Linked DNA regions of Homo sapiens: all the other regions are linked to region 2. Evidence: fine-mapped expression QTL. A gene starts in region 2. Each other region holds a variant in brackets. All regions are shown on one strand. Distances are between the middles of the regions.

Region 1 (6,125 bases), 23 kb after region 2:
TCAGGAGCCTGGTCCTTGGCAGTTCTCAGTAAAGGCTCTTTGACCTAATTCCACAGACTAAGCTCCGACATGCTTCTGTCTCAAGACCACAGGGACAGCCGCGTAAGACAAGGCCTGTGACCTTGTTGGAAACGTCTCTGCTTCATGGGTTCTTGCCAGTCTGTAGGTCCCCCACAATTTCTACAAAGTAAGAAGTTCCCTTTAACCCTAAAATGAGGGGGCCCTGGCAATAGAAGAGCTACGATCATGTCTAGAGCCTCTGTAGGTTTCTTGGTAGATTGGATCTCTAGTGTAAGATGCCATTAATAAAGGAAATCATCTTAAATCCCTAGTTCTCGGTTGTCATTCCACTTTACATCCCATCAGATACTTGGAAACTGCTGGTTTGTAAGCTCCATGAAGGCAGAAGTGGCGTCTTGTTCATATTTGAATTCCCTACAGAACCTAACGTGAAGTGGAGCCTCAATAAATCCTGGGTGAAGTAGATTAAATTATTCTCTTACTTAATCTCTTTTGCAGCCGGAATGTTCCCAGTTCCCTTGACCATTCTTTGTATAAGGTATTTCCAAATTCTTCACCATCCATGTCCTTCTCTCCGAACGCATCCCTGTTGAGCAGAATTTCTGAGACAGGCCCGTAGTGCAGGTATGGTCTGACGAGGGGCAGTGCAGTGGGTCTGTTCCCCCATGACCTCATCTCGCCAGTTAATGAGGCTTAAAGATGAACAAATAGCCTGCTATTATCTGAAAAGCATTTCTGAAAATATTGCTTTGAGCAGGATGATAGACTTGTTATAGGGAAGATTCCATTCATTGAAAGCTTACTTAAAAATATTTCCCTAGTTATATTTTTATTTTTATTAATAGTTTTTTAAATGACATTTATTTCTGGGTTTTCACACATGTGCTTTACATGTTCTTGTTTTCCTTTACAATTGAACATACACTCTATCAGCCAGAGGCCAGTGAGCATTTGATGGGGGCCAAAAAAAAAAAAAAGAGTTTTGGCATAGCTAATACTTTTCATCTTTGCCTCATCCATATTAAGTTTGAGTCTTGGGCTTATTATTAATTTGAGCACTTTCATTTTTTTCTATTTTCCACTCGTTATAAAATTACAACAAATTTTTTTTTTTTTTTTGAGACAGACTCAATTTGTTGCGCAGGCTGGAGGGCGGTGGCATAATCTTGGCTCACTGCAACCTCTGCTTCCCAGTTTCAAGCGATTCTCATGCCTCAGCCACCTGAGTAGCTGGGATTACAGATGTGCACCACCATGCCTGGCTAATTTTTGTATCTTTAGTATTTTCATCATGTTAGCCAGGCTGGTCTTGAACTCCTGACTTCAAGTGATCCACCCGCCTCGGCCTCCCAAAGTGCTGGGATTACAGGCGTGAGCCATTGTGCCCAGCTGCAAAATGCATTTTAACAGTGGTTTTAAAATCTTTATTTGGCAATCTTTATTTTTAAAAATTGGAACCATTTTTCTTCAAAAGTTGAATTAGGATTGAACCAGAGTAGGAAGCCGAACCTTCTCCCCTGGACTAGGTTCCTGGGGAGCTTAAGATGCTCTGAAACAGAATTTGAAAATGGTTGCAATAAAATATTCCCATGATTTCACAAGTACTGCTGAGTAAGGATGCTGCTGCTCGCCTAACGGAACTACTAGCTGGTAGCCCCATCATCATGGAATACAGAGGTCTGCCTGGGGAGTCTCTCTGAACCTGTTCCAGTTCAGACAGACTGCCTGATTATTGAAAAATAAATAAATAGTTAAATAAAAACAAAACAAAACAGAAGCCTACTTGAGTTGTTAGGAAGGTGGTTTAGATTAGGAGCATAGGATTGTTTGAGATTTGAACACTGCCCGTGTAAGCTTTTCTAACAGTCCCATGCTTTTGATCAATTATAAGATCCTCCCTCAAAAAATTTCCCCCCATAAACTATTGCCAAATCAGGTCTCTAGCTTGTAGTTTATTTTTTTTTTGACTGGCTTTGAAGACTTTAAAATATTTATCTATATTAAATGTCTTCTTGTAATTTTATTTTATTTTTAAATTTTATTTATTTATTTTTTTGAAATAGAGTCTTACTCTGTTGCCCAGGCTGGAGCACAGTAGCACAATCTCGGCTCACTGCAGCCTTTGCTTCCCGAGTTCAAGTGATTCTCCTGCCTCCGCCTCTGGAGTAGCTGGGATTACAAGCATGTGCCACCATGCCTGGCTAATTTTTGTATTTTTTAGTAGAGACGAGGTTTCACCATGTTGGCCAGGTTAGTCTTGAACTTCTGATCTCAAGTGATCATCCCACCTCAGCCTCCCAAAGTGCTGGGATTACAGGCATGAGCCACCCATGCCCAGCCGCTTCTTGTAATTTTAAACCCCACACTTTGCCCATCAATATCTCCTTGCCACTGACCTTAATATTCAATCTTGGTTTTTAGATCAGATTCTTAAATGTAATTACTGCAAATTAGCATCTGGTGACTTGGAGGACTGCAGCATCATTCCAATAGAGTGGCGTCATTTTGCTACAGCTGAAGAGACACGGTTGATTTATGAAGGGCAGAGTAAGGTAGAGGAGAGAGATAATAACTTTGTGTAACTTTGTCA[G/A]TCAGTCTGAATAATGCCAGCATTTCATGTCCTCATACAGTGATGATGGCGACATACAGGGTAGTAACTCCCTCTTCTATTTTTTTAAAGAAGGAATGCCTTTGGGGTATTAATGGAGAATATGCCTTGATAAGTACAGTAAGATGTGTTATTAGGTATTAGGATATACCAGCCTTCCAGTGAGAAGACTTAGTAATAAATGAGTAGCATTTTAATGATAACATTTAATGTTTCTACTTAAATAATATATGCAGACAATGTAACGAGTCAAACAGAAAAGATCACGAAGAAAAGCAAGAGCCATCCCTCTTCCTCTTGACTCCTAATAACCAGGAACAACTTTAGACAGTTATTTGTTGACTTTCTGCAAAGAAGTGAGAATTTTTCTTGGTTAACCAATTTTGCGGACTTCCTTTTACTATTTCCAGTGTTTTATAGTTATTTTTGGTTCTTCATTGAGAGTGTTTGTAATTTTTAGGTAATGTCCATGAGCTTTATTTCTTCTTCTGTCCCCTTGCATGAGCACCCGAACTCTCCTCCCTTTCCTTACCCCCAGTTCCTACTTGCTGTCAGCCTAACTTTTACTACTACAGGATTAAGGTTGCAAACATCTCCATTCTTTCTGGTAGTCACAAGTGACTTTCCATTGATTTCTATCATTTGAATTTATAAGTTTAAAAAATCAGCAAATATCATTACTATGGGGATATGTGTTATGCTAGAGTAACATTTTCATCTCTACACATGGTTTCAGGGCTTCCAGCCCATTCAAAGATCATGTTTTGTAGATCTTTCTGATTTAAGGCAAATGTGTACTCCAATCATGGCTTAAAAACTGCTATATATCTAATTTCATCTTTGAATCATGATTTCTTTATATTACATTTTACATTTCCTGAATTTTGTGATCACCTTTTCTTTTTGTTTTTTGGAAACAGAGTCTTGTTCTATCGCTCAGGATGGAGTGCAGTAGTGTGATCTCAGCTCACTGCAGCCTCCGCCTCCCAGGCTCCAACAATCCTCCCACCTCAGCCTTCTAAGTAGCTGAGACTACAAGTGCACACCACCACGCCCAACCAATTTTTTTGTATTCTTTGTTGAGGTGGGGTTTTGCCATGTTGGCCCGGCTAGTCTTGAACTCCTGGGCTCAAGAAGCCCTCCCACCTTAGCCTCCCAAAGTGCTGAGATTACAGGCGTGAGCTACCGCAACCAGCCTCCTTTTCTTTTTGTTGTTTAGAAAAGGATCGTGGGGTTTCATCATTTGCTCAGATGTTTCTGTCTTCTTTGTTACACTGTCTTTTGCATCACACTCTCCCTTGTCTTTTGGAACCTTTCACTTTCTCCCAATTTAATTTTCTGCTTCCCTGCCCAGGACTCAGGGATCACCTGAGGCCTTTCCCCTTTCTTGGTGGGCCCCCTGTTTTCCAGTTTCTACTTGTTCTTTCTTGGTTCTCTTTCTAGTTTTGCTAGAGGAAGTTTGTAATATCTTCAAAGGAATGGAAATGTAGGAGGTAAACTTTCTAGAAACCACTTGATGGATCCATGTCTGAAGGTCAGTTGACTTGAGAATGTAGAAGGCATTGTCCTGTAGGCACCTGGAATGCAGAGCCTGGTGCTGGACTGGTTCTGGTTTCTTGAAGCTGGCCTGTTTTTTCTTCTAAGGAAGCTTTTAGGATTTTTTTATATATATTCTTTGTGTTCTGAAGTTTTACAAAAATATTCCAAGGGAGGGTCTTTTAAAAATGATTATTAATGGCCGGACGCAGTGGCTCATGCCTGTAATCCCAGCTCTTTGGGAGGCCTAGGCAGGCGGATCACCTGAGGTCAGGAGTTTGTGACCAACCTGGCCAACATGGTGAAACTCCGTCTCTACTAAAAATACAAAAATTAGCCAGGCGTGGTGACGGGTGCCTGTAATCCCAGCTACTTGGGAGGCTGAGGCAGGAGAATCACTTGAACCCGGGAGGTGGAGGTTGCAGTGAGCCGAGATCACGCCACTGCACTCCAGCCTGGGCAACAGAGTGAGACTCTGTCTCAAAAAAAAAAAAAAAATATTAATTTATGTTGAACACTTAATGGGGGCCCTTACCGACTGAAGACTTGGATCCTTTGGTCTCAGAGATTTTCTTTAATATTTCTTTCAAAATTTCTTTTCCTACATTTTCATAGGTGTCTTTTATTACAACTTCTATTATACTGACCTCTGGATTTTCCTTGTCTCCCATATTCTCCATCTTTTTGTCTACTTTGTTTGATATTCTGAGAGGCCTCTTCAACTTTATTTTTGGGACTGTGAGTTAGATTTTGTGTTTACCCATCATTTTTTGTCTTTTTTTTTTTTTAACTCTTTGACTTCCCTTTTTCATAACATCCTGCTCTTGTTTTAAGGATATATTTTCATAAATCCAAGAGTATACTTATTTTTTTAAGCCCTATATGCTGGTCCCATACCTGTCTGAGTCCTCTGTGAAAGATACTTGGGTCTTTGATGCTGCTAGCTTTCCTTGTATGTTGGTAGGTTAGCTTGGTGATAAAGAGCCTGGTCACTGGCTCAGATTTGGGCTGAATCTTGGCTTTTTCATTTCCTAATTGCAAAGTACTTTAATAATAATGATATCCAACTGCTAGAGGTATTGAACATTAAATCATTTAGTACATGTACTTTTAGAATTGTGCCAGGCAAATAGCAAATGTGCCGTAAATGCTATCGTCATTGTCATCGTCATCACAGGCAAAATAGCAGATGTGCCATAAATGCTATTGTCATTGTCGTCACTTTTGTTCTTCAGTTTACACTGAGGAAGGAAAGATTGGGTAACCAGGTTGGGTTTCCTCTGTGCAGCGTAAGGTGGTATTCCTTGCCAGGCCTCTCCCGCAAGAGGAAATTTGGCTGGGGGCTTTCAGACACACGCAGCCAGTAGGGCACTGGGGGCCTCCTTCCTTGTTGTGGTAGACTTTGTTTCTGGAGGGAAGGAGGCCCCCCAGTGCCAGCATAAGGATGACTTTCCTTGAGAGCACCAACTAAAAGTCTTAGCTCACCCAGGAGGGCTTTATACTTTGTGTTGGGAAGGGAGTTGGATTTGTATAACTTTCTGTTCAGACTTCCTATAATTTACCTATTTTTAGTTGCATGCTAATTTTGAGTCGGAATCCTCTCTGGGATTCAGGTGGTTTCCATCTTCCCTGCAGCCCTGTTATAGCATGTCCTGGACAGAGTTCTCCACTCGATTTTATCCGTCAGTTTGTTTCCACACACCTTCAGTTACCGAGAAGCGCACTGGAATTCCTTCTGATTTTTCCCTGTCTTCCTATTCTCTCTGCTGTTGTAAGTTTATTTCTTTCTAATTTTTATGCTGCTTTTCCAGTGATGTTTGGATTGGTTGAAAAGTGAACAGATGGGCTCAGGTCATCATTTTGAACTAGAAGCCAAAGGAATCTTTTTTTTTTTTTTTTTTAATGTTTCCCCTTTATCTTCACTATGAGAAAGGAATCTTTTTTAAAAGAACTGCTTTGT
Region 2 (6,125 bases):
TCCCAAAGTTTGATTCTTGTTCTGAATTAGATTAGGGACTAATGCACTCGACTATAACCTTAGCTCCCCATAGAAATATCACCACTGAATCAGGACGCAAGACCATCTTCTTAGCTTTTATGAGGACTTGATTTTTTTTAAAGGCACATAAAAACTGTTTTGAATCTTCTGCTGATGCCCTAATTAGACTGTAAGGTATCTGAGAGCAGGGACTATCTTACTCACCTTGGTAGCTGTAGCACCTAACACAGTGGATGCTGTGAGCACAAAAAACATTACATACATAAATGCTGAATACAATAAAGTGACCAAAGTATACCAATGTGTAGCAAGTTAGAAAGCCTTTTTATTTTTTTGAGACATAGTCTCACTCTGTCACCCAGGCTGGAGTGCAGTGGCATGATCTCGGCTCACCGTAACCTCTGCCTCCTAGCTTCAAGTGATTCTCGTGCCTCAGCCTCCTGAGTAGCCGGGATTGTAGGTGCACGCCACCATGGCCGGCTAATTTTTGTATTTTCAGTAGAGACGGAGTTTCATTATGTTGGCCAGGCTGGTCTTGAACTTCTGACTTGAAGTGATCCACCCTCCTCAGCCTCCCAAAGTGGTGGGATTACAGGCGTGAGTCACTGTGCCCAGCTGTATAAAGCTTTTTTTTCTTTTTAAAGGATTTTCGCAGAAAAATTCTTTTTTTAAAAAAAAAAAAAAAAAAAAGGAAATGCAAACCTGCAAAGCTAGAATTGGGCTTTATGTGAAGAGTTTCACCAAGTGTGAAAACCTTCAAAACAGACTTCAAATATGCAATCTGGACAGGCTTTGTTACCAGGTTTTTAAAAATCAAGTTTGAATAGTTCAAAAACAAGTAAAATTGTTTTAGTGAAGAAATGGCCTTTTAAAACCCAGGTCCTAGCTGGGCAAGGTGGCATGTGCCGGTAGTCCTAGCTACTTGGGAGGCAGGCCGGAGGGTCATTTGAGCCCAGGAGTTGGGAGTCCAGCCTGGACAATACAGTAAGACCCTGTCTCTTAAAAAAGAAAAAATTAAAAGCGAGGTCCTGAAGGTTAATGAAATCAGTATCGGCAATTCATTTAGATGACGGTGCTCAAAATATTCGTCCTGTGGAAAGTCACAACGAAAGGTAAAATTCTCAGGACATCTGTGAGTTAAAACAACAGACCCAGCGTAGGGATTGTGCCAACCTCCCAGTCTCTAGCTGCCCTGCTGGCAGTCCAGGAAGGGTATCTCCTGTCAGTTCCTGAAAGGGAATTCTTCAGCTGCCAAATCAGGCGGGAAAAAGGAAGTATAGAAGGCTCTGTGGAAACTGGCACCAGAGCACAGTTTCAAGGCACCGAGAGTTATATTTGAAAAATCATGTAAAGGTGGCTGCCAAGATTACAGTAGATTTAAAGCAGTATAAGAATCGTTCATGACTAAGACCACTGAAAAATCCTGGACCCAAAACAACTCTAGAGACACAAACACTGTAAACGATACCTAGTATATACTTACTACCGGAAAATCTGCCACACGTGGGATTAGAAATGACAACCTCAACATGGTTTGTTGCTAAATACAGTACCCTCCTGTTCTAACAGCTGACTTTTATAGATACAGAAATGTACTAAGGGTAAAACCATGCCCTTAGAAAGGAAACGCTGTTGCTACCTATACAGAAACAGCCTCTCCTAATAAGAAACACACTGATGACCACCCTATCCCACAACCCCGGTACCCCTTACGGTGCTGAGAACTTTTGGTACTGAGCCAGTTCAGAAAGCAGCACACACGAGAGCCAAATATTTCGGGCACATTCCAACTCTTGTCCACCCCTTAGTTTCCTTTTCAGTAGACTCCCAAGAACCTCCATCCACGGGAGAAACCTGGATTTGGGGGAGGGAATCCCAGGGGGAGGGGAGGGGAGCGGTCCACCCCGGGACACATGCACCCCCTCCAGGGTCCCCTCTGCAGATCGGCCCAGCTGTCCGGGCGCAGAGCCCCCAGCCCCGGCACCCAGCTTCTCCGGGCCCCGGAGCCGCCTGGAAGCCCCCGTCGGCCGCAGGTCGAGAAGGTGCTTCCCAGGCCGGGGAAGGTGCCCGCGCCCTTGCCCGCAGCGCCCCGCCCCGATGCCCGGCTCTGCGCCGCGTCCCAGCGGCGGCGCCGCCGCGCGGTAACCCGGAAGTGGCGGCGGCGGCGGCGGCGGCGGCGGGCGTGCGGGAGCGGGAACGGGAGCGGGGGGCGGCGCGCACGAGCCGGCCATGGACGCCGCCGCCGGCTTTGTGTGCCGCGCGCGGGCCCGGGCCGCCCGCGCCTCGCCTGGGTTCCGGGGCCGCCGCTGACCCGCCCGGGCTCCGAGCGCCGCGCCCGCCGGGCCGGCCCCGCCTCCTGCCCTCCTCCGCCTCCGCCTCCTCCTGCCGCCGGGCGGGCGGGCTGCAGCCGCCCTCCGCGCTCGCCTGCCAGCTCCCTCGCCGCGCGTCCGTCCTCCGTCCTCCCGGGCCAGCCAGCCAGCCAGCCAGCCGGGCCGGCGGCGGGCACCAGGCCGTCCCGATGCCCGAGCCAGGCCCCAGGATGAACGGCTTCTCGCTGGGTGAGCTGTGCTGGCTCTTCTGCTGCCCGCCCTGCCCGAGCCGCATCGCCGCCAAGCTGGCCTTCCTGCCGCCCGAGCCCACCTACACGGTGCTGGCGCCGGAGCAGCGCGGCGCCGGCGCGTCCGCCCCGGCCCCGGCCCAGGCTACCGCCGCCGCCGCCGCGGCCCAGCCGGCACCGCAGCAGCCCGAGGAGGGCGCGGGCGCGGGGCCCGGTGCGTGCAGCCTGCACCTCAGCGAGCGCGCCGACTGGCAGTACTCGCAGCGCGAGCTGGACGCCGTCGAGGTCTTCTTCTCGCGCACGGCCCGGGACAACCGGCTCGGCTGCATGTTCGTGCGCTGCGCGCCCTCCAGCCGCTACACGCTGCTCTTCTCGCACGGCAACGCCGTGGACCTGGGCCAGATGTGCAGCTTCTACATTGGCCTCGGCTCCCGCATCAACTGCAACATCTTCTCCTACGACTACTCGGGATACGGCGTCAGCTCGGGCAAGCCCTCCGAGAAGAACCTCTACGCCGACATCGACGCCGCGTGGCAGGCGCTGCGCACCCGGTGAGCCTGCCGGGGTCGCCAGGCCTGACTTCCAGCTGTGGGGAGGCGGGGTGGGGGTCTCTTGGGGCCCCTGGGGCGGCCTGCCAGGAGAGGGGCCCCTCCTCCGGGGCTGAGGGCCAGCGGAGAGCCCCTTGGCCGCCGTAAATTCGCTTTTCTTGTCCCACCCTGGCTTGCTCCCACCCTCTCCAAAAACCGCGCCAGCCTTCAGGTTCCTGGAGAGCTCGGACTCAGAGAATTTTGCCTGCTTTGGCTCGCCTGTGTGTCGCCGGCCCACCGGCTGGGTCTTTTGTGGCTCCGGTCACCGCGAGTGGCAGAGTGTGGGTGCTTAAGTACCGGGCAGAAAGAAACAACTTGGTTCGAGTTTCGTTTGTACGAGCTGAAGTGACCTTGGGCAAGGCACATGGGTTTCTAGACTCAGTTTCCTTCCCTGTAAAGTCAGTGGGCGAGACAGGATGGCCTCTAAAAGACTTTCTGGTTGTAAAGTGCGGGCAGGACAATGTCTGGGCAACCTTGGAAACAGCTGGAGCGTCAGGTGGAGCGGGGAGTTTGCCTCCTGGTGGGGCAAAGTAGTGGCACTGTGGGGCAGGAAGTTAGCTGGTAGCTGTGGGCCTGGCACCTTCCACACGGCCTCCATAACAGTCCAGGATAAGTTTGAAACTTGCAGGGGCTGGGAAATCTCTGACCTTAAATTAGCATTCACAGAAGGACTGAAAAGTGTTTAGGGTGGGCCATCTGTGAGCCAGGCACAAACTGGGGGCATGGTTTAGGGGTTAGACCTGGTTGTTTTATAACAAGCAAACCAAAAACCTGACTTTTATTCACTATTAGACAAAAGTCTTATACATGTGCAGGTCAGGTTACCTGTTTGTGCTCCAGTTTGGGTATCTGTGACCTTTCCGACCTGCCTCATAGCAGTGATGGTGAAAATAACCTGAGGCCATGTCTATGATGAGATTTGATTTCTTCAGATGAAAGAGTCCCCAGAGGAAGTACACCGGGCATTATTGTCGCCATGGACCCTTCTATAGTTTTTATCTAAAACCTGTTTGCTTATGCACATCACCAACGTTAATGATTTTTTTTTTTCATTCGTACTCACGCATATGTTCCTAAGTGACTCCTTGCCTGTCTGGGAAAATGGCTTGTCCAACAGGGAAGTACTTAATATTTGCTCTATGTTGCATGTTTATGCCCTCCTGAAGTCCTGAAGGGGATGCCCTCATTGGGATTATAGCTTTTCGAAAGTGGCTTAGGCAGATGAGAATGTATCATATGCAGATGCATTGGGTCAGAGTCTGTAAGTAGTTAAAAGCCACCTGTTCCAGTAAAGGGTTTCAAAAGTATGTGTCACACACAGTCTATAGCTTGCTAGAATTTGCTGTTGGCAAAGGTATTAAAAATAAGGTTGGCATTAGATCTTTAAAATTTGAAACATGAAAATCCTACCTTGAGTAGATTTTTTAATTGAAGAGTTTCCATAGAACATTGCTTCTGTGTGTGCATGTCCACATTACAATGAAAGCCTTTCACATGGCTCACCCTTTGCCCCAAATATACAGGTGTGTCTGTGTTACAGCTTACGTGGAGTGTAGTTATTTCCTGGAAACTTTTTTTTTTTTGGTCATATTTAGTTGAATTAAGGGGCGTTGTTTTGGATAATGTTGAATTATCTGATAGTGTATCAGTTGAATTAAGGGTAATTGTTTCGGATAACTTTGAATTATCTGATGGTATGTCTAAAGATTGCCCATGATTTATTTAATGTTATACCAGAACTCATATCTAAGTTAATTTATTCACCTGTAAAAAAGGTTAGAATTTGAAGGCTGCATGCGAAGCTTAGAATTTGAAGGAACCTTATAGATCCTCATGTCTTGTGCTTTTCAAACTGTTTTGACTGTAACCTCACAGTAAGAAACACATTTTACGTTTTGATCAAGCACACATACACGTCTGTATCCACATACCTGAAGCCAATGCTTCACAAAACAGTAATTTTTCTATGGGCAGCACACATAGCAGAATATGTTGTTTTATTTCACTTTTTTTTTTTTTTTTTTTTTGAGACGGAGTCTTGCTCTGTCGCCCAGGCTGGAGTGCAGTGGCGCCATCTTGGCTCACTGTAAGCTCCACCTCCCGGGTTCACGCCATTCTCCTACCTCAGCCTCCCGAGTAGCTGGGACTACAGGCGCCCGCCACCGCGTCCGGCTAATTTTTTGTATTTTTAGTAGAGACGGGGTTTCACCGTGTTAGCCAGGATGGTCTCGACCTCCTGACCTCATAATCCGCCCACCTGGGACTCCCAAAGTGCTGGGATTACAGGCGTGAGCCACCGCGCCTGGCCTATTTCACTTTTATAAAAAAGAAAAAAAAAGATGGTTGTGAATTGCTAAATTTATTTCCCAACTCATGTATGGACACTGCACACGTTCACCCAGCTCATCTGACAGGAGGATAGACTGGCGGCAAATCAGCAGTAGGTCTCTTGACTACCAGTTTAGTACTCTTGCGAGGGCACCATTGCCACGGTAAGCATATTTATCAGATTCTTCAGGAGGTGCATTTGTGTGTCTTGGTTATTCTGCTGACATAAGAGTTACCTAATTCTGAAGCCAATCAGCCCCTCAACCACTTTCCTCTTGCTGTTCAGTATGGTTCTTCTGCTCTTACTTGCCTGGAGCAAGTTCTTATGCTATTCTCTCTTCTTTTACAGCTTAATTCATGTCAGTGCCATGGCAGGAATGCCTTCCATCCCATGTGTCCATTCTTCTGTTACTGGGTCAGACTCTGTTTTCCACCAGCCATCCCCCATGTCTTCTTTGGGAATCTTTATCTTTCCTGCCCTCCTAGTTAACCACACTCCCCAGGACACTGATTGGAGAGCTTGCCTTGTTCTGAGTCATCTTCATCTCTGTACTTAGATTATTCCCCCAGGAGGACTGTAAGGTGCAGTGCCCTGCAGGCCCCAAAGCCCCACACTCAGGACTTTGCCCCAC
Region 3 (6,125 bases), 40 kb after region 2:
TCAGAGCTTTAGTTTCCTTCTCTATGAAATAAAGTGGACCATCTGTGTGATTCTCTAAGGGCCTTTTCATTTCTATCCTGTGTTTGGTATATTTCCACAAATGATGCTATGAACTTTTTAAGCTTTTAAAAAGGACGGGGTGGGGGGATAGAAGGTTTCTGGTTGCAGAATGGAAAGTAGGAAATACAAGGAAAACAGAAGGTAAGACGGGCACAAAGAGAGGATTAGGCCCAGGAGAACAGAACTGAAGATGCCATCAAGGAGGGGCCAAAGGGCTGCTTCGCTGCTTCATGGGTTCTGCCCAGCGGAAAGTGTCTGTTTAACACACTTCCATTTTGAATGTTTGCAAAACACATTTAAGGGAGTAAACAGCAAGAGTGGGCAGTGCTGAGCCAGAGCTGATGGAATAAGTGGGCCAGCATTCAGGTTTCAGTTCACATGTGGCCTTGTGGTGTCCTGGGGCTGCATTTGACTCCACTTAGGCCTCGCTGTTTATGGAAACAGGAAAGTGGCCTGGATGGGTGAAGGACTACAAGTGCAGGAGAGAGGATTAAGGCTGGCCTGCCCCAGCCTGTCAGTTTCACTCACTGCCTATTTAATTCTTGCAGCAGTCCCAGAGGCAAGCCTTACTCCACCTTTCTATGGCCGTGGAGAGGGTGCTACAGGTGCAAGGCAGAGCTGGGTTCAGACCTTGTGCTGTCTGATTGCAGAGCGTACTCTTCTTTCTATGTCCTCTACGAATCTCCACCTTCCCTCCCCTGTCCCCGACCTCCTCATGGTCATGACCACATACTCCAGGTTACTTACAGAATCCCTGTTTTAGTCCAGCATTAAGAGAGAGGACTCTAAGCTCTCATGTCTGGGTACAGGGCCTCAGACGATGGCATCAAGCAGGCTCACTTGCTCTCAGCTTTGCTTTCTTCCTTGTGTAATTCTCAAGGAGGCCCCAGGCTCAGCAGAAGAGGGTGCTGACATCCTGGGGAGGACTGGGATTGACCAGGCTTGGGTCCTAGGCTTATCCCCTAAGAAGTCACTCTGGCCAGGAGGATTCAATACTCTTATTGCCCAGACCTGGACATGTATTCACACCTAGAGTTCAAGGACTGGGAGGCAGAGGGATGCTCCAAAAAGACAGAACAGGTCATACACGTTCTCTATCCCCAGTAAGTCACTATCCAAGAACTTCCTGGCAAACATCTCAGCAGTTTTAGTGCAGGAGCTAAATGTAGCATTGCTGTCTCAGATTCACAGTCATTTGCAAGTCAGTGTCAAGCAGGCAAACTCACCAACCATCTGTGTCTCCTCCACTATAGCACTTGTATGAACTCATCCTACAAAGAGATAAAACAATTAGAAATTAGATACTTGAGTTTCTAGTTCTAAGAAATATTTTTCAGCCTTGGCAATCAAATTGATAATTAAATTCAATATTTAAAGTTTTTTTTTCCCCAACAGAGAATTCATGAAATCTGTACCTTAACTTTTGGCTGGGTTTCTTGGAAATGGAATGGTGAATTTTATTTTATTATTTATTTATTTATTTATTTATTTATTTATTTATTTTTTTAAAACAGGGTCTGGCTCTGTCACCCAGGCTGGAGTACAGTGGTGCGATCTTGGCTCATTGCAACTTCCACGTCCCGGACTCAAACCATCCTCCTACCTCAACCTCCCGAGTAGCTGGGGCTACAGATGTGCACCACCATGCCGGACTAATTTTTGTATTTTTGGTAGAGATAGGGATTCACCATGTTGCCCAGAGTGGTCTTGAACTCCTGGGCCCAAGCAATCCTCCCACCTCGGCCTCCCAGAGTGCTGGGATTACAGGTGTGAGCCACCATGTCTGGCCTAGATGTTTTATATAAGCCAGCTTGTGCAGTCTGCTCAAATGCCCTGTGGAGGAGGTAGCTTTCTAACCATTCGACAGATATTTGTGCAGTTGTAGAGAGAAGGCAGCATTTTCTGGCTTTTCCAACATGTTAAATAATTACAGAATGCCAAAAGAATCTCCATTATTATTAGAACAGTTTCATGCACAATTATACTCAGATAAGTTCAAGCAAATTATTCTATTTTACTTGTAGCAGATCCAAAGAGATTTAATTTTATATTTTTTAGGACTATAACTTTTCCTCTGAAAAATGGAAGATAAAATTTTTTAAATTTTAAAAAATTAAAATGAAGTCATCATGTCAGGTCTTGTTTATTTTTGCTTTGGCACAGAGAAAGGGTATATGGTAGGAGAGAATAGTCTTGAATGTCATAAAGTATTACATTCTTTTGAAGGTAGATTTTGACATGACACAGAGGGCCCTTCCTTGAACCACTATTTGAAAAGAATTTCAAACATCTAGGATAGAATGAAGCATCATACATTAAGGGTGGATGCTGCTTTACAAAAATTAGGTAAAGCTTGTCTTGATATGTATTGAAATGAGTGAATAGGTTTAGGAAAGGCTACATTGATTAGCAGGTATTTCACCACACCAAGCCCTTTTGTAAGTTATGTTTTCCTAAAATGCCCTTGTTACTCTGTGCATTATGGTATCATCATCTCGCATGGGACCTGGGCCTTCCAGAGCCTCTGCTGTTAGCTCTGCTCCTGTGTCCTTGCTTGAACAGATATCCCCCAGGCTGCTACTTCCGGCCACTTGTCTTCCTCTGCACTGTGGCAGGAGAAAGAATGAGGAGAGCTCAGGGACTGGTCTTTCTTAACATAGATATCCAGTTTCAGGAAGATTTTTCTTTGTAATTAACCCTGAGAGGTTAACCTTTTATGCCCTGCTTATTAGCATGTTCCAAAGTTCCCTGAAACTCAATATATTCCCAAACTAAACTTATTTCCTACTGAAACAGACAAAAATCCAACTCTACCTATTATCTCCTTCCCAACCTCCCAATTTGTGCCAATTTTCTCAACACTTACCTATAGAATTGTCTTTGAATCTCTCCCTGTGCCCCTCTACCTGCTACATGCATGTGGGATAAGAGCAACACTCTTCTGCAAAGCACTTCTTCCCACCCAGCACCCTCCTTCCCATTGCCACTCTCACCACCCACCTCCACCTTGTCGGATCTTGTGTGCGTTCCCAAGCCTTTCCACACTCTGTTTCCTCCTTGTTTTTACGCCCCTGCCGCTGCCTACCATCAAACCCTCGCTCCAGCCAGGGCGGGCTCCAGTGCCGTGTTCAAGAGAGACTCTCCCTCCCCTGCTGCTATTGCCTTTCTTCATGTTTTTAAATCTCCTCTCCTTTGACATTGGCTTTGAGCTCCACCTTCTACCTGAAGCTTTTTCCGACTTTCAGGTCCCCATTTCGATCATTCTCTTTGCTGTACCTCAATGAACTTGACCATAATATTAATTTTGCCTACATTTATACTTGGTTTTAGTGTTATTTCTTGTTTTGAATCTCATTTCCTTCATTATT[TC/T]CCCCAAAGACCTGTAACTCAAGAGCACATGGTTTACCCTCCTTACATCCAGTGTTACTTGAAGGGACTGAGCCTACTTTTAATGCTGTATTTGGTATGTTTTCTTTTATAACCACTGTTGAGAGAATACCTGGACTGTGCCCAGGTTTTAGAAACTTCCAGGGGTTATAATGAGCTGCTTATAAATGACCCTTTTAATCAAATTAGTTAAAAATTAGAAAAAGGAAAAAATATACAGCAGACATTACTAACCTTTAAATTTTTATCCACATAGCACCAAAACAGCGGATACTTTAAAATGTGTTTTCTTTGTTTTCACCATTGGAATGAACAACCAATAGAAGTCTGTTTGTGAAATTTTACTTAGTATAATGCTAAAAAATTTTCCAAATCTACAAACGTGTTTTTGTTTTTTTTGACAGTTCCTCAAAACAAAGTTGTATTTTAAGGAACAATAAGTACATTTTAGGTGATTGATGCTTTTTTCCTCCTCTTCCTCATAATTAAAATATAAAGCACGTTTGTTAAGTTTTGGCTAAAAGGTTTGCCTGGGGCAAAAGTATTCCACATGACCGAGGGACTGTGTTTTCTGGCTGGTCCTATTTACACACCTGCTTCCCTTGCATAGTCAGTCTTTTTATTCTGAGGCTTTTCTCTAAAGTTTAATTTTTATTTTTTTAATGTTTATCTAAAGTTTATAAAGTTAGTAGGATTTCTCAGTATCCTCAGACCTCATCCTTCAGTTAACATTCACGTTACCTTGTGTATTTATCTTCTTCCTATGTCTTAAGATATTTCCACTAGGAATTCTAACTCTGAAATATTTAAAATGTTGACTTCAAAGTCAGTGGAACTGTGCCAAGCGTGCTTCTCTGAAGATAAATGGGAGAGCTCCTGACAAAGGACAAAGTCAAGGCCCATTAACTTAAACAGGATGCAGTGTGTCTCAGGGAGGCCAGGCTTGTTCATGGTTGTAGAAGGAAAAGCAAGCCTTACATTAAAACAAAAACAAACAGATTTTAACTTTATAAGTGATCGTTCCCATGAGACACCATCTCCTTGGCGCTGTCAGCCTCCATTGCAGGAACTTCCTGCCTCAGTGCTTCCTCTTGCTGCTGAGATGGCTGCCAAACCCTCGGTTTCAGGGTGCTCTTGGGGGCATGTCCCATTCCCATATGCTGAGTGGGAATGGAAACCCAAATTCGTGCTGATCAACCTGTACTCAGCATAGCCTGTGACTGCAAAAGGATGGTAGACATTGGGAGAGGCTGAGAGCAAAAACTTGCAAAGGGGATTACTGCACACATCGCACTGCCCGTGACAAAGAGTAATGATTCAGGGCTGTGGCTTCCCCCGGTAAAAATTGGGAGACTTTAATTTCTTGTGCTCTGTTTTAAGAAAATCTTACATCATGCTTAAAAATGTTAATGCTTGCATGCTTACTAAATATTAGTACGGTCTTTGTTTTTGCTGCAAGAGATTCTGTTCCTGTCTAGATCCCCAAGGTGATGGTAAACTTCGAATGGATTATATGTCCACTGGAATGATGACTGTGTCTGAAATTTAATTTTAATTTGTTCAAAAACAGCTTTTGGCTAGAATCACATTCTGTTCAAAGCAAAAGGTGCCCCCCAACTCACTGATCCCTGAGCCTGGAAATTGTTAACTTGCCCAAAGGGAGATACAATTTTATCTACCCTTGTGGAGCTTACATCGTCATTGTAAGTGTAGGGCATGCCACGGTGCAGTTAAACACATCCACCTTCCTGTCATTAAGCATCTGAGTGGATGGCTCAGGAAAGAAAATTATGTCTGTAGACTGGAGGAGTCAAGAAATGTGAAAGGACGAGGTAGGACCGGAATGGACCTGTAGGACCCCAGAGTTGTCCAGGTGATGACAAGGAGGGAGAACATTCCAGGCAGGGGGTGTTTATGAGCCAGTGAGGGAAGAGCCTGAGCCACAGGAGCAGAAGGGCCACCTGGAGAGAAAAGAAAATGTTGGAATAGTCGGATGGGGCTAGATTGTGGACATGGACTTTTATCCTAAGCACAGTGATTGTCCAAAGAGTTTGATGAACAAAGCAGCATAAAAAAAGTTTGTTTTTTTTTTCTTTTTTCAAGGAAGATATATCTGTTGGGAAGGACGGATTGGAGTAGGGAGTGACATGAGTGGGACAGTTTATATAGATAGAATTGGAAGGAAAACAGGTCTGGGAGAGAAGAGAAGAAGTCAGCTGTGGGCATTGATTATGCCTGAGGGATTCTCAGGTTCTGCCTTGGGAAAAAGGGAGAAGCTGGGATGGAAGCTGGTAGGCCATCAGAGTGTATGCTGTTAGCGTGAGTCAGGGTACAGCAATGGATTGACACCAGGTCAGTAGTCAAGAACCGTAACACCTGCTTCCTTCTCAACCATAAGCTGATACACAGAAACCAACAGGATAGGACAGAACAGGTGGGAAGTTTGGGCAGCCAAGGTCCCTGTGGGGCAGTCTGAGCACCATGGAGGGGATGTACAGGCAGCAAGAGTAAGGTTTCCAGAAAGACTCTGGGTACCTGGATGGAGATGTTCATCATTGGGCAAACTGTGCGGGTTCACAAACCAAACAGAAGGCAGGCCCTGATTAATTGTCCAAAAGATGCTGCCATTTGTAGCCCACCACAAAGCAACAGAAGTGGTGTCAGAGAAACAATGGGTC

The links. PIP is the estimated chance that this variant, and not a neighbour inherited with it, causes the effect.
Region 1: its variant is fine-mapped to the expression of ABHD17C in blood mononuclear cells (TOPMed, PIP above 0.99). The same link has a PIP of 0.9 or more in T cells, monocytes and whole blood.
Region 3: its variant is fine-mapped to the expression of ABHD17C in whole blood (TOPMed, PIP 0.95).

What each region holds. Positions count from the first base shown.
Region 1 is chr15:80,716,274-80,722,398 of GRCh38, forward strand. The region is part of intron 1 of ABHD17C (abhydrolase domain containing 17C, depalmitoylase); the gene reads left to right. Among named protein-coding and RNA genes, the nearest start is that of ABHD17C, 24 kb to the left of the region's middle. The variant G/A (reference allele first, on the strand shown) is at 2,612.
Region 2 is chr15:80,692,891-80,699,015 of GRCh38, forward strand. It overlaps ABHD17C (abhydrolase domain containing 17C, depalmitoylase), which reads left to right and starts at 2,420. Exons shown (of 3, transcript NM_021214.2): 1 at 2,420-3,129. The coding sequence starts at 2,540. RefSeq lists silencers at 1,138-1,432, 1,894-2,053, 2,074-2,183, 2,204-2,623, 2,714-2,763 and 1 more and an enhancer at 2,954-3,023.
Region 3 is chr15:80,732,436-80,738,560 of GRCh38, forward strand. All of the region lies in intron 1 of ABHD17C (abhydrolase domain containing 17C, depalmitoylase), which reads left to right. Among named protein-coding and RNA genes, the nearest start is that of ABHD17C, 40 kb to the left of the region's middle. The variant TC/T (reference allele first, on the strand shown) is at 3,429.